3 separate regions of the Homo sapiens genome follow, and regions 1 and 3 are each linked to region 2. A link means that fine-mapping ties the variant in region 2 to the plasma level of a protein whose gene starts in the linked region. Region 2 holds a variant in brackets. A gene starts in each other region. All regions are shown on their reverse strands.

Region 1 (8,279 bases), not on the chromosome of region 2:
GCAATGGTACTTAGGTAAGATGGTAGAGGGCAGGCAGGTGGTAGACTGTGCCAGGCTGTGAGAATCAGATAATCTGATGCACAACCCAAACCTTCCCTTCCTCACAATTCCCCTCCTCCCCACCCAGGGCACATGAAACTCACTTTCAGTGAGCACCAGCAGGGATTATCTCATGTATTCCTCACAAAACCTCTGCAAGATGGGGGTTATCACTCCTGTTTTACAGCTAAGGAACATGAAGCTCAGAGAAAGTAACCAGGCCAAGCGCATACTGTCAGTGCTTCCATGCTGTCTTCCTCGTGCCTCAGGGGACAACAGTCCTTCCACTGAGACAGCTACACTAACTGGAGAGTTTTGCCATCCTCTTCCCAGTTTTCTGCCTAGTAGTGGTTCCAGGGGGTCTCCAGGATTGCCCTGGGTCCTCTACAGCAATCAGGATTACTCCAGTAGGTCTAGAAAGTGTACACCTCCTTGGAAGTTCCTGCTCGAGGGGACTCCTGTGTTTTAGCTGGATTCTAGGAAATTCCTCTTTGTCCTCCATATGCTTCAGTCCTTTTATGTGGCTCCTTTGAACTAGGTCCAGTCTCCAGGAAACTGGAGATGCCCCTCCACAACTGTTTTCCACCCTGATTTGAATCCCCAGTGTCCTAGGAATCAATATGCGGTGAGTGGTTACAGTGGAGGAACGTTTATACCACAACAGCAATAAATTCTCTGAGGGTTAGTATAATATAAACAATTGACAGTGAAACATCTGTGCAATACTGGAGTACAGCAGAGCTTTAGCACATGCTTTAGCACTACAGAACTGGGATTTTATGCACGTCAAATCATGTTTGACACACCCCCAAACTGCACAGAGTAAGTCCTGAGGACACAGCCATCTAACCTTGCCATGTGATCCGCTCCCAATCTTTACCCCCTGCCAACATTACGTAAGTAGCCTATTTTTCCTCAGAACCCAATTCAATTTTCTTGAGCAAAATTTGAAAGAAAGTAATTTCATCCAACAAAAAGGATTCTGAACAAACACAGAAGAGATAGGCTGTAACTTACAGCAGTTTACTCAGGCCTCACCTAGATGTCCTGTCATAAACATTTGATACCATGATTAACACCAGGAGCTCAACTAGACTTACAAGAGGGAAATATTATTAGGGAAAACTAGGAATTCTTCATTCTTATTTTTCCACTAAAAAGGGTTCACACAATTGTGGAGAAAAGAGTGTCACAAAAAGTAAAGTTTACAAAGTCGTGGTTTATATGCAAAATAAAACAAACACATGTAAGTTTATTCTACCCTTCTGGGAGGAAGTGGAGACACAGGGTAGCAACAACTCAATTCTACAAATATTTATTTTGTCATTACTGAGTGCAAAGTATCAGGGAAGTGTAGCTGTGGAATACCAATGCTTAAGAGACCACAGAGTTCTTGAAACCCACGATTCTTCTTCAAATCCAGATGTGTGTGAGCCCCACCTCATCAACTCTGAAGGCTGAAGGATCAGCTGGAATTTCTGCTGCAGGGTGTCCCTGATAAGCTCAAAAGCATCAGAACGGAGGGAGCTTTCTCCCCTTCTCTCATCTCATTAAAATGAGCTTTCTTGTTGTGGGGGGTTGGGGAGGGACCTTTAAAACCAAACAATGGTGCCCTCTTATCATCTTTTCCTGTCCTCCTTTCTCCAAGTTTCCAGAGGGGAAAATAAAACCAAACAAACCCCTCAGCATTGTGCTCTCCTGACCTCTAAGCTCTTCTCATATAAAGTGTACTGTTAGCCTTCTGTATCCCAGCCTAATCACACTTCCCTTTCCCTTCCACACTTGTGGACTTCACAGATTTCTCTGGACGTTTCTCTGGAGATTTCTCAGTTCTTCCTCTTCCAAAGCTCTTTTTTCTTCTCCCAAGTTTCTCCACAGTCTTGCTGAATCCCTTTACTCAAGGCTTTTACACAGGGTTAAATTTGGGTGGTGGTTTTATTTTTTTTTTAACCACCATATATACATCTTGGTTGTACTTATTTATTACTGTGCAACCACCTCTGCTCCCTTTCTAGAATTTAGTGCAATAGAAAAGGCATTACCTTTAACCTAACATTTGGGACTTTGAACTAAACTTTTGCACATGTTTTAAGAGCCCATTATCTCTTAAGTTGGACTCTTCCTAAATCTCTGCCGCCAAACCTACTTTATTGAAATCCTTTGAAACCCAAGTCTTTCCACATTTTGGCTCTCTCTGAAGTTTCTTTCTTTCTTTCTCTTTCTTTCTTTCTTTCCTTTTCTTAACCCTATATTATAGTGTCTGGTAATAACAACATATATAGACACCACACTATGTGTCTGGTAATAATATAGAGACCACACTATGTGCACTATGTACAATTATAATCCTTATTTTTATACAGGATAGAACTGAGGCAAGAAAGAGTAAATAACTTGCTCAAGGTCACATAGAAGGTAATTGAACAGAGAATCTACCCCAAAGCTGTGAGCTTAATTACTCTCAAGCTCCGGGGTCAAAGAGATCTGGTGTCCATTCTTATCACGTCTCCCTTTTTGCGGGGATGGTGCCTGTTAATTTATTCAGCTTCTTCGACGCGGTTTCCCTTTCAATAAGATTGAGATAAAGCATTTTTCGAAAGATCTAGATTGAGATAAAGCATTCTTTGAAAGATCTAGCAGTAAATGAGAGCTGCGTGAGGGATCCGATTCAGTCCCTAGCTCTGGATAACTGTCAGTGCTTCTACGCACCCCACCTTAAGCCCCTCGCAGGCAGGACTGGGTCCTGCTCCTCTAAATACTCCCATCTCATAGTGGGGGCGCAATAACGTCCGTTTAAGACGAATCGTCCAAGGGACTTCTATGCATCCAGCTGGCACACTGGCCGGAGTCTCACTTTATCCCCACATCTCTCCGCGCCCTGGACCTAGGCTTGCCACACTCTGCCATCCGCTGCTTTTCCAGCCCGGCTCCTCTCTCAGTCCGGGACTACTATCCCGGGCGCGGGCTCGGGTCTTACCATGGCATCGTAGCGCAGGGCGTTCATGAAGTGCGCCACCTCGGCGCCCTTGTACACGGTGAACCAGATAGTGCCCTGGTACTGGTCGCCGGCGTCCAGCAGCAGCACGTTGGGTTCGGCGCGGCGGATCTGCTGAACCTTGGTGAAGAGCCGAGCCACGCCACCCATGCAGCGGCTGGCGTTGACGCACTTGCTGGAGTCCTCGCTGGTCTGCTCCAGCCGGCTGTGCACGTCGTTGGTGTGCAAAATCGTAAGCTCCCAGGCGCCAGCCGCAGGCCACAGCACCGCGCCCAGGGCGAGGAGTAGCGTCGCGGGCGCCCGCGCGGCTCGGGGACACATAGCTGTGGCGCGTGAACTGGGTGCGAAAGCGGGCGAGCCGGGCGAGTGCCGGCGAGTAGGGGCGAGCAGCTAGGGCCGGGGCTCGGTGCCCCGGCTGGAGGGGCGGGGCCCGGGTCAAGGCCGGGGCGGGTCCTTCTTCAGCCTGGAGGCCGGCTTGGCGGCCAGGCGCAAGTTCGCGACGTCACCCGATCCGACCCTGGTACCCGGAGCGGCCCTGGCGCGGCTGTCGGCTGGCACCAGCTCCCTGCAGGAAGAGTGGAGAGGTTGTTCCCGGCGGGGAGCGGGTACCGGCCGCATCCCGGCCGGACCAGGGAGCCTGGGCGCCGGCAGTTCGGCTGCTGGTGCGCCGCTCTTTCGGGGGCGCGAGGAAGGAATTGGAGGGGTCCGCCCCGCGCCTGGGTCCTCTCTGAGTCTCGCCTCATTCGAGGCACGGGTTTTTCTACAAAAGGAATGTATGGTTTGTGGTTGCGCTAGCTCATCACTTCAAAGAACCAAAGAAGGAAAAGAGAGGGGGCGGGAAGAAAGATGAGCGAGCTGAGGGGCAGAGAGGAGGAGTAAAGAGAGGCCGGGCAGAGGAGCTCCTTGCAGTTTCGGGCTGTGAGAGCCGAAGCTCACTGAGATGTGACGCTTCCTGTTGGGTTGAGAACGCACGAAGTCTACGATGCTTAGACAAAAAAATCTCAGAAACTAAGAAATCATTCGAATCCAGTTCCTTGTTTATTCACAATTAAAACCTTAGTGATAAAACAGAGGCGACGCGCGGACAGCTCCTGGAAGCAGAAACACGATTGGGGTAAAATCCGGCAGCTATCAGGACGGGAAGGGATGCTGCCCTTCTTTGCTTTTCTGGTCTTATTTTATTTTATTTTATTTTTATTTTGTCGCGTGTGCTTTCGGTGTCGCAGTGAAGTCATAGCCAAATACAATGTTAGGAAGATTTTCCTCTATGTTTTCTCCTAAGAGTTTTATAATTTAAACTCTTAGACCTTTAATCCATTTTGAGTTAATTTTCATATGTGGTATGAGTCCACATTTACTCTTTTTCATGTGGATATCCAGTTTTCTTAGTACCATTTGTTGAAAAGACATTCTGTGCCCGTTTTTAAGACATTGACCTGAGGTTCGGAGATTGTAAATCATTTGCCAAGAAAGGCCATGCAGTTTGGGAGCAGCAGTGCCTGGGGCTACAGAAGACCCTTGCTTCTGGGACACCCTCTAATGTCATGCTTTGCAAGGTTTTGCTCTGTCCCTCTTTGAGCACCTGCTAGAAGCAGGTAAAAGAACTGGTAGTTTTGCTGTTTTAACTTAAAAAAAGAATGATTTTAGACTTACAGAAAAGTTGCAAAGGTAATAAAGGGAGTTCCCACATACCCATCACCCATATTGCCTTATGTTAACAGCTTATATAACCAATGAAACTAAAAACTTAACAGTGATACGAAACTATTAACTGTGTTACTGATTTTATTTTAATTTCACCAACTGTTCCACTAATGTCCGTTTTCTATTCCAGGACCCAATTCAGGATACCATATTGCAGTTAGTTTTCCTGTGTTCTTAGCCTCCTCTAATCTGTGACAGTTTCTCAGTCAGTTGTCTTCAAAAACCTTGACACTTTTGAACAGTACTGGTTTCTGTATACTATCCCTCAGTTTGGGTTTGTCTGATGTTTTCTCATGATTGGACTGAAGCTGTGGATGTTTAGGAAGAATGCTACAGAGATTATGTGCCTTTCTCATTGCCTGGTATCTGTGGGTACACGGTATCAACATGACCTATCACTGATCACTGGGGAACTGATCATTTGTTGTTTCTTGTCTTTTAAACCTAAGCCACTGCAATAGTTTCTGAAATTCCTGTTCTGGGGATGCTACCAGATTTCTGCTTCAATATCATTTCCATGCCATTTGTTTTCATATACATCTAAAATGGCCTTTGATTGTTTATTGCACCAAGTTCAAGCTTCGCAAACTGGCATTTTGAAGTCTCATTTTATCCAGCCAACTTTACCTTCCACTGTTCCTCACACATTCCCTTTGTCCTCATTTCTTCTCTCCAAACCACCATTTCCAGTCTGTCCTTAGGCCAAGGCCCGGGGTTCCTTTAATTTCTTGTTCAAGTCAACATGAAGTTCCTTTGACTTCTTCACACAGCAGTGAGTTTTTCTCTTTTCTAAATTTCTGGTCAGTTCCTACAATCTCACTTTAATGTGGTTTTACTTTTTTTCTCCAGGTGTTTAATGTGTGTTTTTGGTCTTCTCCCCAAGCAATGGAAACAGAGTTGCTGCTTCAGTGGTAGTAGTACTTGCAATTCAAGTAACACTAACTTAAAATCTACTTTAGACACAGTGGGCGATAGTATGAAAGAACCAAGAAGGATTTCGGCTGTCCTGGAGCTGATAATGCTGCAAACAAGGTGAGGGTGCATACAGTAAGTAGCTGCAAAGCCATGAGGATCATAGAAAATTTCCCAAGTCCATGAGGAAAGAAAAATATACAGGCAAAAATTTACATACAAATCAGGGCTTTATTTATTGTTTCATCAGTTGATTAGACTTAAGAAAGTAATGAAGAAAATGTCAAAATAATGCAGAATAAACTTAAAAGTGTGTGGTGCTAATATCCATTACATTGGGAATAGCCCCCCAAATTGAGAAAATATTATTTCAGTACATATTAGAAAACTATTTTCTGACTCAGGAAAAATCTCACTCACATCATTGATGAACAATATATCTAGTGCTAAAACTAGGTTTTAATTTAATGACTATAGCCTGTACTACACTCATTATATAATAGGGTGACAAATACTTTAATAATAGATTACATATTACATCCAATAACAATACGTTATTGATTTATTAGAAAATAAATGGGTATATAACTCCATTTGTCAAATCAGTTCAGCCGGAACCATAGGTTGGCTATGGATTGCAAAAGTTCTGCAAAAATCAATGAAAGCAGTCTGTAGGAACCAATAGTAAAATTTACAAATAGTAAATTGTGTGTAACAATCTTTTATATCAGAAAAATTTATAATAAATATGTATGTATATAAATGCATGCGTTTTTCTTTAAGAGTCAGTTGTTGAACATTTACCAGCACACCACTGGAGCTATCTAATGGATAATATATATTTAAGTTTCTTTTGTGATGAGAACCTATTTTATATCTTATCACAAAGTCTTTAATAAAATATCAATTTTTCTTTAAATTTGCTGAGATAGATTTATTTAGGTGGGCTGAATTAAAAATCTGAGACCTGCTTTTAGGTGAATGCGGGGTGAAAACAGGGACCGGCCAGGCGCGGTGGCTCACACCTGTAATCCCAGCACTTCGGGAGGCCGAGGCGGGTGGATGACCTGAAGTCAGGAGTTTGAAACCAGCCTGGCCAATATGGTGAAACCCCATGTCTACTAAAAATACACAAAATTAGCCAGGTGTGGTGGCGGGCGCCTGGAGTCCTAGCTACTTGGGAGGCTGAGGCAGGAGAATCTCTTGAACCCTTGGAGGCAGAGGTTGCAGTGAGCTGAGATCACGCCGTTGCACTCCAGCCTGGGCAACAAGAGCAAAACTCTGTCTCAAAAAAGAAAAAAAAGAAAGAAAACAGAGGGACCTTGTCATAGGCATCCTGGCACATTTGGATTATGCTGTTAAATGACTATTAATATTTCATCTTATTGGTAAGAAAACTTAATGTGATATTTAACCTGGCTGAATAATTTGCTTAAGATCATTCATGTCCAAGTAAGTGGCAGTCAGGTTTTGAGCACAATTGAATTCCAATACTCAGGTTACATTGTTAAGTCTTCACAAAAGCATGAAGGGTAAATATTATTATCTGCTCCCCACCCCCACTTTTTCTGTGGTGAGAACGCTTAAAATCTACTCACATAGTGATTTTCAAGTATGCAATACATTGTTATTAACTATAGTCACCAAATTATACAGTAGATCTCTTGAATCTATTCTTCCTATCTAGCTGAAATTTTATATTCTTTGATCAGCCTCTCCAGTAACCCTTCAGGCAGCCCCTGGTAACCACCATTCTACTCTCCACATTTTTGCTTTATCCATTCATCCATTGATGGACAGTTAGGTGGATTCCAAAGCTTGACTATTGTGATAATGCTGCAATATCATTCTCCTTTTATGGGTAATAAAATGGAGCTTCAACATGTTAAATTAATTGCTCAAAGTTCCACAAGTGGGCAGGATTTTTTTTTGTCTTTTTATATTTGTAACTCTATTTCACATAAAGGCTCTCTGTCCACTCAAAAGGTTTACCTCTTGCTGTCTGCCACCTGTTATGCCCAAGGAGTAGTTCTTGGTCTGGGGACTTCTGAGAAGGCTACAAAAGCTCAGAATCCTTTCTTGCAACTTTGCCGTGATCTCTTTGTGGCCATAGGAGGACCATCAGTCTATATTGGCCTCTTTAATAAGCCACAAATAATAAGAGTGGTTTAGATTCGAGTCAATCCAGGACACAGAATGTATGTTTTCAGAGGCTGCACATAGAATGCACAGGGGATGAGGAAACTGGCCTCTTGCACAGTCACTGACTCTGACATCTAAGCTCAGACATGCCTCTTTCTCCAGCACTCTGGGACGACAGAGGTTCAATGTGCGGCTTCTCTGTCACAATCTACTACTCAGCTGCTCACAGCAGAAGTACAAGCAGAATCTTTCTCCCCTTCCCCATTAGAACTTGGTCCCTTCACGCAGTGGACTTCCTCCCTCCCACCAGATTCCCAGAAGCAACATGGAGTCTGAGTCTCTCTCCTCCATGTGGGATGCTTCCTTCCCATAGGCAGCAGGACCTGGGAGTTTCCTGGGGCAGATCCTCTCTGTCCCTGGGTAGATGACTTTTAAAATACCATTATTGCTTTCCAATCCCCTTCTACTCTGTTGTGTAGTTCCATAT
Region 2 (8,000 bases):
CTGGCTTCAGTGCTGTTCCATGGGCGTGCCAGGCATGTTCCCACAGCAGGGCCTTCACAGTGACTCTCCCTCTGCATGGTCAGTTTCTCACTTCCTCCAAGGCTTTGCTGAAATGCCACCACTTCTGTGAAGCTCCACCTTGACCACCTGTTTAAAATTGCAGCTCTCTTCCCACCCATTACTCCCCATCCTCCCTGTCTTGCCCTATGTGGTTTTCCATGGACTTATCACCCTCTGGCATGCTATGTTATTTACCCATTTATTAATTTTGTTTGACACTTGTCTTCCCCCACTGGAATGTAAGCTCCAAGAAGGCAGGATCTTAGTTTTGTTCATTCTGAGTGAGAGTTCCAGGGAGAATTGTAAGGAAGAAACCTTTGAGTCGGGTGTTGAAGGGTAAGTAGAATTGGACAATCAGCTTTTCTGGGGAAAGACATTTGAGATGGAAGGAATATCGTGAGAAAAGGTAGAAAAGTGGCAGGGCTCATGAATGCCCCTAGAATGGCAAGGAGCCTGCCTAACTGGTGCATGAGAGTGTCATGGGAGTGGTAGTGGTGGATCGATAAATAGAAAATAATGAAAAGACACTCTTAGTGGAGGGAGGGAACACATTCCTAACCGCTGCCTGTGATAATATGGCAAGCATGTTGATGACTGGAGTTGAGGACCCTCAAATAGGTAGCATGCATAACATGGGAGGTACTGTCACAGTCAGAAGCCAGAAATGTGAGTAGTGTTTGCTAATGAAATCTGATTTTATACGGTACTTGACTGTTTTCAAAACATGATCACATGCTTATTATGATATAAGCTTTATAACAACTGATAAAGTGAGTTAAGCAGGTATTATGTACATTTTTGATAAGCTTTTTAAAAAATGAATTGCATCTTATATTGGAGGAAGTGGATTCTCAGACCAGCTCAGTGACTTGCCTAGAGTCACGGAGTTAGAAAGTAGGGAAGCGCTTCCCACTGTCTGTGTCTCACGGTCTGTGTCCCACTATGCCAGGCTGCCTCTCTCATTCTGTCACAGTGCTAAACATACTGTGCTGGTTTTTCACAAGGATATAGGCTTCTTTCCATTTCCCCCCATTCCCTGAAAATAGCAGTTTCTTCATCCAATTACCTCTTTACCAGATCCATTTTTCTTTTTCCTTCTTTTCCCTTTCAACTTATCTGGACTACTTGGGTATGTTTTTACCTTTGCCTGTGTAGCATTTTTTACTTTTTTCAGGCTTCTGCCAAGTCTGTCTGACATTCTGTTAAGGCTGTTGCCACCTTTCATTTGGTTCTTGGGTGGAAGGGAAGAGAAAGCATGTCATCACCTCCATTTGAATGTCTTGAGACTTACTTATTGTTCACTTTGGGAGTAAACCTGATCTTCTTAATTCTCCCCAGATGTTAGTAGGCAGGAAGAGGCGGAGGGAGAGCTCAGTGAAGGAGAACACTGGTATGGAAACTCTTCAGAGACTCCGTCAGAAGCATCCTATGGGGAAGTCCAGGAGAACTATAAGTTGTCTCTGGAGGACCGGATCCAGGAGCAGTCCACGTCCCCGGACACCTCCTTGGGAAGCACGACTCCCAGCAGCCACACGTTGGAGCTGGTGGCACTGGACAGTGAGGTCCTGCGAGACTCACTGCAGTGTCAAGATCACCTTTCCCCGGGAGTGTCTTCTTTGTGTGACGATGACCCAGGCTCCAACAAGCCCCTGAGCAGCAATTTGAGGCGGCTGCTGGAGGCTGGTTCCCTCAAACTCGATGCTGCAGCCACGGCTAATGGCAGAGTGGAGTCCCCCGTAAACGTTGGCTCGAACCTCTCCTTTTCCCCGCCTTCCCACCACGCCCAGCAGCTCAGTGTTCTGGCCAGGAAGTTGGCCGAGAAGCAGGAACAGAATGACCAATACACTCCAAGTAACCGTTTTATATGGAATCAAGGTAAGTGGTTGCCAAACTCAACCACCACCTGCAGCTTGTCTCCGGATTCAGCCATCCTAAAACTGAAAGCTGCAGCCAATGCCGTTCTGCAGGACAAATCTCTCACCAGGACTGAGGAGACCATGCGATTTGAGTCCTTTTCCTCCCCTTTTAGCTCCCAGTCTGCCAGTTCTACCTTGGCCGCTTTGTCCAAGAAGGTCAGTGAAAGAAGTTTGACTCCTGGTCAGGAGCACCCTCCACCGGCCAGCTCCTTCCTTTCCCTGGCTTCTATGACCTCCTCAGCGGCCCTTCTGAAGGAGGTGGCCGCAAGGGCTGCGGGCAGTCTTCTGGCTGAGAAATCATCGCTGCTGCCTGAGGACCCTCTACCGCCCCCGCCTTCAGAGAAGAAACCAGAAAAAGTCACTCCGCCACCTCCACCGCCACCTCCACCACCTCCACCACCACCACCACAATCCCTGGAATTATTATTACTCCCAGTTCCTAAGGGAAGAGTTTCTAAACCCTCCAATTCAGGTATGGCATCTTTTCTTTCAATCATCGTGTAAGTCCTTTAGACTATAAACTGCGATGTCTTATTCATTGCTTTTTTCAGTTGGGTTCCCCATCTGATCTGAGGCAGGAATAAAAAAGCAAGAGCACAACAAAAATACTTTAAGTAAGCAGCATAGTAGTCTTTCATGTACGTATTACACAAAGACTTCACAAATAGCTTCACTTTTGAAAGGTAATGAATAATCTTAGAGACATACAGCATTCCCTCCCTTTCATACAAATGATTTTTTTTTCTTACTAAGTTCAGGCTAGGTCCATACAAGATATATTTAATGGGAGAAGATCAAAGCATCTTTGTCATGGAGTGCATGGCATCACTGAACATAAGGGGAAAAAAACCCACTGCTTTTGAAATAGTGGACAAGGGAGAGCCCACACTCCTGCTGCCTCCATCACAAATGGACTTTTGTACAATCAGGAACTACTCTGCCCTAATTTATCACACCATATACTTTTATGTTAGCATTTTTATTACTTTTTGTGGAATTTAAGCCCTTTTCACGTATCCTATTCTCCTACAATTTCTTGTCCTATAAGAACTCAAAAAGATTGTCAATCAAACATAATCAACACATTTCCTGTGAATGCTTTATTTAATTCAAATCCAATCCAATTTTGAAGGAATGTGCATGTGGAAAATTTGAATCCTAAGGTTTTTCTAGTGGAGGCAGTCTTTCCAAAGGAGAAATCGCTGTCATATAGGACCTTAGCATTCACAATTATTCATCTGAGGGAGAAATTTAGTCACTTGAATTCTCACAGTGGAAACACCATTTCTTGTTCTGGTTTGCTTTAAAATTGTGTACATGATAAATACACGTTCCTGGGATGCGTGTTGGGGTTTCAGATGTCTCTTAAGGATATCCTGCCAGACTGGAGCAGGAAGTAGGCTATGTGCATCCTCATCGGTACAAACATTGCCATCGTGTGTGTCTAGCCAACTTTTGATTATTTTCAGCAACAATGATGAAGAGGGTTTGGAATGGCAAATAATTGACGGAACGATCACAGTTAATGTCAATTTGATGCATTTATGACAAATTTCCATTTAAATGGCTGAGTGAGCTATATTCACTAATTATAAGTACTTCAAAACTTGAGTCAACAGCAGAAGACAACGAGGAAAATGGGTATCTGGGACTTTTATGACTCTTGGTGATCCAAACTGTTCTCTCCAGAGTTTCTGAAATGTCAGTAAAATCCTAGGATGTTGTCAATTCTAAGTTCCACTTCTCCTCTCTTCTCACCTGCCATCTGGTGAAATAAGGAGAGAAATGGGTAAAATTAGGAAACAAGGAGAAGAGCAAAGGAGGCTGGGGTAGTTCTACGATGGAAAAAATCACTCCTGACTTATAGAAATTTCATTTAGGGATAGCAGTAGAAAGAGAGGTATGGCTGTATATAAAATAAAATTTTAGGCCGGGCGCAGTGGCTCACACCTGTAATCCTAGCACTTTGAGGGGCCAAGGCGGGTGGGTCACCTGAGGTCAGGGGGTCAAGACCATCCTGACCAATATGGTGAAACTCCGTCTCTACTAAAAATACAAAAATTAACCAGGCGTGGTGGTGTGCGCCTGTAATCCCAGCTACTTGGGAGGCTGAGGCAGGAGAATTGCTTGAACCCGGGAGGCAGAGGTTGCAGTGAGCTGAGATCGTGTCACTGCAGTCCAGCCTGGATGAGACTCTGTCTCAAAAAAATAAAAATAAAAAAAAGAAAATAATAATTATATATATGTATATTCTGCATATCTAGTTATTGAATAAATGTGTGAATGGCGTTTCTAGTATACAATTCATCTGGACATTTGTTAGTTGGGAAAGCTTATGCAAAGTTAATAATAAACTTTAGTTGATTGAAGACTTGGAAA[G/T]AAGTGACTGATAAAACCATGTTTCCTGAAGCCCAGACTGTAGCAGCTTTGTCATATTGAAGTCTCCGGTATAACCAGCAATGGTTGTGAATATAATTTTTTTCACTCAAACGACCAGATACATGTAAAGATGAGAAAGAGGTCATGAGCTTCCAGTGAATGGTAGACTTTTTGTTTGTTTTGTTGTGGGAAATACACCCAAGGGAAAAGCTATGTTCCTTTTTGGTTTAAATACACTTAATCTATGCCAGCAACTCAGTGGGGTTCTCAGAATAATTGAATATGGGAGATCTATAAGAAATCGTTTCTTACTTTGCTTTTTACTATATTTATTATATTGCTGAAACACTTAATATTTTAATCAAGGGATGTTCAGAATGTTCAAACTGAAAGAGGAGGGAAAGGAACTTCTCAGCTTTGGGTTATAGAACCCTGTGCTGATTGACTTGTACCTAAGGCCTCCCCACCCCAACTCTCCCATTTCAACATGCCTCTGTTCAGTCTAAGACTTGAAGAAGCAGCTTCATCAGCAGAGTAATTTTATTTAAAAAATCTTTCATTTTGTAAAACTCATGCATGAGGAAAGATCACTGCCAAGAAAATGAGGGTCCTTGAAATTGTTACCCGAAAAATATTCCATACGTCCACGTGGGCCCATCCTACGTTCAAGTTCTGTTTGTTATTGCATGGCTTGGAAACAGAAGAGGGGATGCCCTCACTCTTTTCAGTTAAAGTGAATGTCATCACTTCCCAGCAGCCTAGCTAGATTATGGGTTAATAAGGAGTTCACAGAGTATCTAATTTTGTTATTTGTCTTTGTATCATGGGTACATGATTTGGTGTTACTGGGGATCACTGATTTTGGCATCTGAGGAGTGGAAGGAAAGGTGGATCATCTCCATCTGTCCCCTCTACCCTCCCCAACTCCCTTTTCTTCCCTCCCCCTCCCTCCCCCACCTTCCACACATTATACTGTTGGTTTGGGGGCCACCTGGGGCTGGATTGGGATGTACCTTCGATTTATCTAAGAAGCATTATGGAAATGTGGTGAGAGTCATCACCCCTGTATGGGAACATTTGTCATTATTATTCTTTCCTCTCCCTTAGAAGGAAATCTTAGTTTAATTCAAAATACGTAGGTGCATTGGCCTCTCACAGCAGGGAAAAGAGTTTCTGTTGCCTAATGACTTAAGTAAACAAATAATAACCGCCCCCAAGAACAACAACAAAAAGCCACAAAAATAAACTACACACCATCCTGATTTCAGGCAGGGCTTTCATTTTTAAAAAGCGATTTCTCAAAATGCGCAAGAAAAAAGCATATAAAGTTGATTCTTAAGTTACAAAGAGATATGTGCTAGAAAAGCTGATCCCGCCTTGAGTAATTTAGACACCACCATTTCTTTGACCTTCTTTAGGTCAAGGGAAGTCCAAACCATGAAAAAAAAATTGTCTTTTAGGTTTGGCCTTATTCTTCTTTTTTGAACAGGATTCAGTGGTTGCCAGGTCATGGTGTATTTAATTCCTTAAGAGTCCACCACTCGATAGCCTTTCCGCCCTGCAAGAGAGACGTGACACTTGAGGGGGAGGTTTCTTTCATGTGACCCTGCGCCCCCAGCACATGCTACACGGCTCCTCTGAAAGGGGACACGATAGAGGGAAGATTATGTCCGTTTGCTATAAAGATAAATGTCACACATTGACTGAATTCTCTTTGAAGCTACTGTTCTGTTGCAGCTAAGAATAAAATAAATGGTTTTTATTTTAAAGACAAAGTTTCTTGTAGAAGGCCAACAAGATTCCCAGGATGCCAGACTCCTGTTTAAAAGAAATAACAGGGAGAGTTTCAGAGAGAGGGTCTCCAAAACATCTTATTGTACTGAATAAAATGTAAATATTCTTAGAAGCAAACCTGGTCTCATACAGCTGAGAACTAAGAATATTTCCTGTGGGTCAATACATAGGGGGTTTCTGGCTGCTGTTTTCTTTAATATTTATGTGATGTTATTAAAATTATTGCAAAAGCATACAAAGTCCGGAGAGGGAGATCACCTCTCCTGATACTCCCATTAGGCCCGTGGTTATTATAATAAATCTTTTGTTTGTGACAGCGTCTGGCTCTATAGCCCAGGCTAGAGTGCGGTGGTGCGATCTCGGCTCACTGCAGCCTCCGCCTCCCGGGTTCAAGCAATTCTTGTGCCTGAGCCTCCTGAGAAGCTGGGACTACAGGCATGCACCACCACACCCGACTAATTTTTGTATTTTTAGTAGAGATGGGGTTTCGCCATGTTAGTAAGGCTGGTCTCGAACTTCTGGCCTCAAGTGATCCACCCTACTCAGGCCCCCAAAGTGCTGGGATTACAGGCATGAAGCACAGGACCCGGCCATAAGTCTCAATAAGCCTTAATCTGAGAATGATCCCATATATGAACTTGTTTAGAAAATTCACTTTTTAACCTAGATTTTTAGAACTGTCCGTCATTAATCTCAATTGTATTTTCGCAGTGATTTAAACTTAGTATGGCTATAGATATCAGACTTCTCTGAATATTTACTAGTTAAAATAGGCATTAATAAAGTCAGCATCCATAATAACAGATAAACCCAGGGACATCCATTGCTAACCTAGGCTTTTTTTGTTGCCATGAAATAGCATTTGAGACACATAACAAAGAAATTCTGTTAAAAGATTTAAAGTCCATGTGTATTGTTAGGAAGGAAGATAGGTCGTCATCCTACACAGATGTGTACCGGTAATGTTAGTAGGTCCAGAATGGAGACCGTAATAATGCACAGATTATGCAGATCCAGGGTCACCAGGCATCTTGAACTCCTAAGTTTATGGTAAGGTATATACGCAGAAACCACCCAGTTGCAAGTTATATTGACTTGCTGCAAATCACCACATAGGATTGAACAACAGGAAGTTTGATTTCGAAGCCTACAAAACAGTTACATTTGTTTTAAAAATACCTTTGTGTTAAAGCAGTTAAGCAACTACAACCCTCCGTGATTTAAAAAAATTTTTTTTTAGCCCAATGAAGTTTTGTTGTTGTTGTTTTGTGGATTTATGCATAGACAATAGGTAGAGCAGCAAACCAGAAGTGAAGAGATGAGCTGTAATCTCAGTTCTGCCACTAACTGGTAGAGAGACTTCTCAGCATACTACCTCAGTTTAGTATCCTCATCTGTAAACAGAGCTGGATGATCTCCAAGGTCTTTTCCTGTTTTAGAATTTCTTGCTTATATTTACTACTGTAGCTCAGTGTTTTAAAACTCTGTTTATTAACTCAAAACAAACTCTTTTTTTTCCAATTTTTGAGTTTAATATGTTGCTTCTTAAAATTCACTATCAAACCTCCCATAAGATCATCTCTGCTTTGGGCAGATCTTGTTCATTATAAATGGTTCAACATATATCTCTGTACTTTATTAATGATGTAGTCATTCCATATGCATTTTTAATATAAGCTGCTCCAGGTTCATTTTTGGAAATAGCTGAGGTCTAAGTACACGAACATTTATCTGTTTATCCATCCATTCATTTAGAATGTGTATTGGGGCACTATGTGAAAGGCATACATACACTCTTGTCCTAACACAAGTTCCATTGGGACTTACTGGCAGCCTCCTGCGTCTTTTCCT
Region 3 (8,279 bases), not on the chromosome of region 2:
ACTGCAGGCTACTACAGTGGGGAGGGAGGGAAGGGAGCATGGATTGAAAAACTACCTATTGAGTACTGTGATCACTACCTAGGTGACAGGATTTGTACCCCAAACCTCAGCGTCATTCCATATCCCCAGGTAACAAAGCTGCATATGTGCCTTGGTATCTAATATAAAAGTTGAAATTATAAAAAAGAATAAGCCTCTTAAGAAAAAAGTCCCCCTTTACATTCCATCTCGCCTAAACCATGGTCCTCAAACAATGTTGTGCATCAAATCACCTGGAAGGCTTGTTACAGCACAAATAGCTGTAGAGTTTCTGATTCAGTAGGACTAGGATGACGCCTGGAACTTGCATTTCTAATGACTTCCTAGGTGATGCTGATGCTGCTGGTTCAAAGTCACACTTTAAGAACCAATGGCCCTTATGTGTCTTCTTTAGTTTCACCGGGACTTGACCTGATTAACAATATTAGATTGCCTCTTCATTCTAATCACATTAGTTGCAGGATGCTAATTATTTTAATAAATGCTAAATTTGCACATAAATATGCAGATAAAAGGTCATGCTTTAATCTTTACATTTTGAATGAGTTATAAGCCATAATTAAGATCCCTTTGACCACATTTTCATAATAATTTTGTTAACTATGAAACTGAATTATTTAGAACTTGCTTATCTTATTGGCAGATTTTTCACATCCTAATAGCGATTTTAATATGTCATTTCATCTGTCACTACATTGATGCAAAAAGTAAGCATTTGTGAACTTTGAGAATAAACCTATGTACTATAAAATTCTATGTCAATTTTAACAGCATATGACCCTTCGATTAAATTAAAACCCTTTATTTTTTATATACTATATCATTACAGCTGGGAAAGACCTAATGGCTTATATTTTTGGTTCTGGTTTCATTCCCAGTTTGCCTAATAGGCTGCTATGGAGCCTGCATCTTTGGTTTCTAGTTGCTTTGTCAGTAGTAAAAATAGATTTGATCCATATCCTCTCTCCTGCTCCTTTTGGTGACCCACAGCATGGGAATTTCATATAACAGGTGACCGTGCTTTGTGTTCACTCTGTGGCCACAGGTCAAAACTAAGTCACAGATTACATACTGAACCCCTTAGTATTCTTCTTCATCTTAGACGATTTTCCTTCTCCAAAATAAACTCAAAGGGTATTTACCCACTGTAAGATATGATTTTACACCCTATTCTTTCTACCATATAAAGCCTCATGAAGCATGGGATAAGGCAATTTTCAAAAAGATCTGATAATATAAATATACATTAGTTATGAAAGACACTTCTCTTGGGGGTGTAGAAAATAAACTGGACTAATTGCAAATCTAGCAAAGAAATACTCAAAGGGATTAACTTACTTGAAGAAAAATGGCAATGGCCTTCCAGAAGCTCAAGAATCCCTTTGTCCAATCTCTCGTACATTAGGGAATTGTCCTTATATAATTGACATTAAACAAAAGTCTTTTGGAAAAATGTGTTGGTAAAGTATATTGAGAAGATGAGGGTGGGTAATATTAATGAAATACAGTTTATCATTGAACAATATGGGGGTTAGAGGTACCGACCCACCGTGTAAAACTTTCGACTCCCCCAAAACTTAACAACTAGTAGCCTACTGTTGACTGGAAGCCTTACCAATAACAAAATCAACTTACACATATTTTATATGTTACATGTGTTATATACTGTATTCTTACAATAAAGCAAGCTAGAAAAAAGAAAATGTTATTAAGAAAATCATAAGGAAGGGAAAATATATTTACTATTCATAAAGTGTAAGTGGTACATCAAAACTCTTCATCCTTGTCATCTTCACATTGTGTAGAATAAGGAGCAGGAGGAAGAGGAGAAGTTGGTTTTGCTGTCTCAGGGGTGGAAGAATCTAAAGAAAATCTACATATAAGTGGACCCTTTTTTTTGTTCAAAGGTCAACTGTGCCTACTATATGCCAGGTGTTTAAGCGATGATATATCCTTTGTCCTCACAGTCACTCCTCAGGGTAGGGATGAATATTTCTCTTTGTCTTGGTTTGAGTTTCACCAAAAGGAGACTGAGAGGCAAGCATTCAAATGCAAGGAGTTTATTTGGGAGGTGAAGGGAGCACCAATGAGGAGTAGGGAAGTCTGATTAGAAGGGAAGGCAGCCAGGCCGGGCACGGTGGCTCATGCCTGTAATCCCAGCACTTTGGGAGGCTGAGTTGGGCGGATCACGAGGTCAAGAGATCAAGACCATCCTGGCCAACATGGTGAAACCCCATCTCTACTAAAAACACAAAAATCAGCTGGGTGTGGTGGCATGAGCCTGTAATCCCAGCTACTCGGGAGGCTGAGGCAGGAGAATTGCTTGAACCTGGGAGGCGGAGGTTGCAGTGAGCCGAGATTGCGCCACTTCACTCCAGTCTGGTGACGGCGTGAGACTCCATCTCAAAACAAAAAACAAACAAAAAAGGAACATAGCCAACACAGCATAGATTATCAACCAGCTCACACTGTGGATAACTGAAACCTGCAATGTAGAACATAATCCTAGGAGTAATCCCACCAGAAGAATGAACTTTCTTGGGCTTGTGATTGAGGGCTGTTCCACAGGGTATGGAACTATACTATTTGGCATGCTATGTTTATGAAAAAAGCAGGCTCCAAGTTCAAGAGCAAGTTCTCCTACAGGTGTAGGTGGTTGGAATGTAGATAGTGAACAACTGGCAAGCAGCTTTAAGTGGCGGCTCCTAGATTGAAACTCAGGTCTAACTGTAGTTAAAATCATTGCTTTCTCAAGCATATCCTACTAATGTGAATCTTCCCCAGGTGTTCCATGATTGAGTGAAATTATAGACTGAGACCACAGGTCTTTTGGAATAGCACTTCCCTATACCCTCTCCAGGGCAAGATAAGACTCTAAGAATTAGTGGTAGGCCATGTGCAGTGGCTCACACCTGCAATCCCAGCACTCTGGGAGGCCGAGGTGGTTGGATCACTTGAGGTCAGGAGTTTGAGACCAGCCTGGCCAATATAGTGAAACCCCATCTTTACTAAATAAAAATACAAAAATTAGCCAGGCGTGGTGGACATGCCTGTAGTCCCAGTTACTTGGGAGGCTGAGGCAGAATAATCTCTTGAACCTGGGAGGTAGAGGCTGCAATGAGCCGAGATCACACCACTGCACTCCAGCCTGGGAGACAGAGAAAGACTCCATCTCAAAAAGAAAAAAAAAAAGAATTAATGGTAAACCTAAATGCCCATTAAGAGACAAATGGATAAGGGAAATGTATAGATATACACACAATGAAATATTATTCAGCCTTATAAGAGAAGGGAATCCTGTCATTTGCAGTAGAACCCAGAGAACATTATGCTAAGTGAAATAAGCCAGGCACAAAAGGGAAATTATTGCATTATTTCACTTATAGGTGGGATTTTGTTTTAAAAAAGACTTCAAATGCACAGAGCTAGAGAATGAAACAGTGAATACCACTAGTGGGAAGCAGGGAAGAGGAAAAGGGGTGATATAGGTCAAAGGATACAAAATAGTAGACACGTAGGATACATAAATCTACAACAGGGTCCCTAACCTTTTCGGCACCAGGGACAAGTTTTGTGGAATACAATTTTTCCATGGGCAGTGGGGGTAGGTGGATGGTTTTGGAATGAAACTGTTCCACCTCAGATCATCAGGCATTAGATTCTCATAAGGAGTGGCGCAACCTAGATCCCTCGCATGTGCAGTTCACAATAGGAGGCGGAGCTCAGTCTGTAAAGCTTGCTCACCGGCTGCTCACCTCCTGCTGTGCAGCTTGGTTCCTAACAGGCCACGGACCAGTACCAGTCCATGCTGGGGAGTTTGGGACCCCTGGTCTAGAGAGCAAACGTGCAAAATGAGGACTAAAGTTAATAAAATTGTATCATATTAGGAATTTTTGTTAAATAAGTTGATTTTAGCTGTTCTTGTCATACACACAAAAAAGTAATTACGGGTGAGATGATACATATATTATATTGGCCTCCCTACTGTAACCATTTTTCTGTGTATATGTATCTCATAATATCATGTTGTAAACCTCAAATATACAGAATGAATAAAACAATTAGCTGTCAATTTGGCCTTAATGTTCCATGTTAAAGCCAAATGTCTATGTTTGTAATCAGCTAAATTTTATATTGTGCAGAAGCCCTGAATTTCACGGATGCCCCATATTTCATGGATGCCCCGTTCAGTTCATAAGCTCTTGTTTACATGATTTGTGCATGATCCAAATGTGGAAAGAAAATGAGTGGGCAGCCTATTCTGGGTATCAAGCAAAGAGCACAGGCACAGACCATGTGCAATAAGCAGCCTTAGGCAAAACTGAACCAAGAGTGGTTTCATACAGGTATTCCTCTAAGTCTTTAATTTTTTACTTATTCCTTTCCCCTTTTTAATGTGATAGACACCTAATCACCTTCTGCTGCCTTCCCAACCTCAACTTTGGTGTTCTTTGGCAGATAGTGACTTCGGTGTTCTTTGGCAGATAGCCTACAAATGAAATTTCAAAGGCTAAGCATATAATGTTTGCTCACTTGATGTAAGCAACAGAGAACTAAATCTGAACTTTGGCAAAAGTCTATTAATAATTGACAAATAACAGAACAGTGAGGATGTAGAAAGCAATACATTAAAAAAAAAAAAACAACGAACTCCATCTGGGATAGCAATAACCTGTGAAAATGCTCCCCCGGCTAATTTGTATCAATGATTATGAACAACATGCTAAATCAGTACTTCCAAAGTCTATATATGACTATTACAGGTCTGGGGCAAATGATGAAGAAACTTTGGCTGATAATATTGCAGCATTTTCCAGGTAAGAAAATTTATTTTTTAAAATCATGTTTTAAAATTACACAAAGACCGTACCAAAATAAGATCTCCTAGTTTTACGTTGGTGGTGTGTAATTATTTGTTCAGATTTGTGCTTAGTAGAGAGGGAAAAGTTCTTGGGGCTGTAAGAAATCTTGGGCCTTTAAATTGTTAAAAAATATTCCAAGCCTGTGAATCTTGAGGAACTGACTGCAAAAGCCAAACCTATGTTACTTCACTTGGAAATATGACAACAATTAATTTAACTACATGTAAAAATAGCGATAAATTCGGATGACTTTTCTTTTTCTTAGTATGACAGTAAATGCTTATGTTCATGGTGTAGGAAACAGCATTAAATGCCAGATAACCATCTTATCCGGATGAACCAGACTGGATTGTTGGCTCAAATGTTTTCTTCCTGCTGGCTTTTCGTGTTATCATTCATTTTGATTACTGTTGTCTAAACTTTCACTTTAGATTTCAATTTGTCTATGCAGCATTAATCTTTCAACTTTGCTGTTTCATCTCTCCTTCAAAGCACTTCATCTCTCTTCCCAAATTAGTTTTCCTTTGACTTTCATATTTCAAAGCACAAGATGGTGGGTGACATGGTTTATGTTTTCTGTTTGTAATAAAAACAAGAAATAAAATCATTTCAAAGGGTTTTTTTTTATAGCAGTTACAAAAATGGTTTATTTGCTGGAGCAAGAGAGGAGTGCCTTCACTACACTACACTCAGTCTCATCCATCTAACATTATGGCTGTTAGTAAAGGCAATCGGTATTGTGGGTACTCATTGATGGTGATAAAGACAAAAAGGCAGAAAATATGCAGGGGGAGAGAATTAGCCTTCCTCCCTGATTTCTTCTTTAGTCTACAACAAAATCACTCAAAATCAGTTTTCCATATTTAAATTAGGAGAAATAAAATTATCCTGGCCAAGGTGGTCTCTGGTAGGCAGCACTGATTCACCCACAAATCCATGTAGAAGACTGAAAATGGCAATGGGGTGAAGGATACGGCCTCTCCCCAACCCTTTCAAGCCTTGACTTTGTCTCAGGTTTTGCCTGGAACCCAAATGAGCTCAACAAATGCCAGGGAAGTCATGGGAAGGGAAGTTGACTGAGAGTAGAGGGGCTTAAAATTCTGCATCATTATTTACTATTTTGGACTCATTTAAAAGTTTCTGCTCTTGGAAGATGCCCCTTCTTGGGCCGATATTAACTTTGTCCACCAAAATTTGCCTATGAGTGGTCTCTTGAAAACACTTTAACCCAAATAGGTTATTACAACCAAGGAAATTTCAGACCCTTGACAGATTTATAGAGTTAGTGTCTCAGCATTGCTAGACCTCCAATGCTCAAGTGATTATTTATTTCATTTGTATACAGCTTTCCTTACTTCTTAATTCCCTTTGTCGCATGCTAGCTAATTAACTAGAGCTAATTAGGAGTCTCCATGAGCTACACTGTGTACTACATGCTGAGGACAAAGCAGTGAGCCAGACAAAGTTCCTGTCCCTAGGAACTTACATTCCCCTGGATGCATATCAGCCTCCATAATGCTGTTGGGTTGAATTGATGCAAAATGGGCCCAAAATAGTTGGCCAAGTGGAGGTCTCAGAGAGGATGCAAAGGGGCGCCCCAAAGCAGATGGATCACCTATGCAACCCTTTAAAATGTAGAAACTTTGGGAGACATAGAAGGCTTGGTGACTTCTAAGTTATGAACTGGAAAAGTGCCTCATGCCTTATGTGAATTACATGGTATTCAAGTGAGTATTCCCATCCTATGTGTGTACCGAGTAACTTAGGGATAGGACACAGATAATGAAAATGAATTTGCAGTGTCACCTTTTCCATGAACCTTGATCATTCTCTTTTGTTCAGCTTTAAATTAAAAAAAAAAATCAATCAACTTTCTTTGGAGGACAGCTGATGCTATTTTATTATCAACTAGTTGAGTTTTTATTGCAATACATTTTGCAATGTGTCCTCTTTTGCTGTATGACTCGCTAGGTGAACCTTGATTCCTCACACTGCATCATGTAGCTGGTCACGTGAAACTAAGAATAGAAATTCTGCCAGGGTTGTGGAGACTTTGGGTTGATGGCATGAAGGAAATCAACCTGAAATTTCACATTCTGATTCTAATGAAAAGTGCAAAACAATCAAACCTCAGATAACCCATTGTGATACAAAGCCAGAGTATTTCAAACACATTTATGAAATTTATACACCTCCCCATCTCGCAAGTACAACAAAAGGTCATTCACCGTGACAGCTTTTATTTCTCTGTACTCAGCTCTGATAATCACATTTTGGAGTTCTGGGGACATGGACCACTCATGTGACCCAGCAGTTGCTTGGAGATATTTTTGGGTAAGACTTCAGACTAATATTACTGTGGCAGTAGAAAAAAATGTTTAAAAGGACAAGTAAATGGAACCACCCAGAACAAAATTTCTTACGGTGGTTATAACAAAACAGGGTAAATGTCAACTTGCTACATTTTGCATGGCTGGAATTGATTGGGATTAATTCAACGAAGAACAGTAATTTGTTTCTCTTACACATTTATTCAAAGTAGCCTTCTCAACTATGGTCTTCACGTTGTTGTAGCTTTTTTTTCTGAAATTATCAATGATGGAAGATGATTAAACAATTTCGACACTTAGAAGCCCTCATGATTTCAGAAAAGGAAACTCTTTTCTGCTGCGTTACCTATTGAGACTGAAGATGGCATCATTTTCTTTTAAATAACAGATGGGTAAAAGTGATGTCATTCTTTCACTTTAATATTTGAGAAGTGATATGAAGTTACCAGTGACATTGTGTTCTCATAGGCATAAATGTCACAAAATAATTTATCTAGTATCCACAATAGGTGAATAAGGTGTTTTTGCTTTATATATTTTAACTGTTTAGAGTAAAAAATTAATGTGGAGAAAATTGGAATGCAGTATTATAGGATTACACAACTTACAAAACATGAATCCACTATGTCCAGTTAGTGTGATTCAGAAACAGCATGCAGTTATAAAGCTGGGTGAGGCATGGGTGTCTTCCTTCAACAGGGCAGCTACTTTGTGAGGAGTGTATATATCATTTGATTTTTTTATAAGTTAAATTTGAGGCCCCTGTTAGATGTGAGGGTGGGCCAAAATTCCTGTGAACAGATTCTCCCCGTTACCCCGCTTCCTTTACTCTGGCATCTCATTTTCTATCCTTTGAAAACGGTTTATTATTCAATTGGTTCAACTGTTTGCCAGTTGAACCAATTCTTTTTCCAAAGTGGAGGCCCAGGAAAGCACAGTCCGAGAATATAGTGAGGTGCTATTTTATGTATGATTGTGGGAAATTTACTTAAATTTGGAGTGGGGTTGGGCAAGGCTTGGAAAGCTAGTGAGCTATCTGACATAGTTG

Which allele goes with the higher level. Alleles are on the strand shown, and positions count from the first base shown. The strength of an association depends on the size of the effect and on how common the allele is.
As copies of T replace G in region 2, the plasma level of the protein whose gene starts at base 3,412 in region 1 goes up (moderate association).
For the plasma level of the protein whose gene starts at base 4,684 in region 3, G is the low allele of the variant in region 2 and T is the other (moderate association).

Evidence for each region. PIP is the posterior inclusion probability: the model's chance that the variant is causal. The UK Biobank Pharma Proteomics Project read protein levels with antibody pairs (Olink). The fine-mapping took linkage between variants from a reference panel, not from the people measured, so its PIPs are less certain.
Region 1: it holds the start of NT5E, and the variant in region 2 is fine-mapped to the plasma level of the NT5E protein (UK Biobank, PIP above 0.99).
Region 3: it holds the start of HAO1, and the variant in region 2 is fine-mapped to the plasma level of the HAO1 protein (UK Biobank, PIP 0.97).

What each region holds. Positions count from the first base shown.
Region 1 is chr6:85,445,216-85,453,494 of GRCh38, reverse strand. It overlaps NT5E (5'-nucleotidase ecto), which reads right to left and starts at 3,412. Exons shown (of 9, transcript NM_002526.4): 1 at 3,017-3,412. The coding sequence starts at 3,355. RefSeq lists a silencer at 3,350-3,619.
Region 2 is chr4:145,896,614-145,904,613 of GRCh38, reverse strand. ZNF827 (zinc finger protein 827) reads left to right here. Exons shown (of 15, transcript NM_001306215.2): 2 at 1,399-2,448. Among named protein-coding and RNA genes, the nearest start is that of ZNF827, 38 kb to the left of the region's middle. The variant G/T (reference allele first, on the strand shown) is at 4,356.
Region 3 is chr20:7,936,863-7,945,141 of GRCh38, reverse strand. It overlaps HAO1 (hydroxyacid oxidase 1), which reads left to right and starts at 4,684. Exons shown (of 8, transcript NM_017545.3): 1 at 4,684-4,856. The coding sequence starts at 4,720.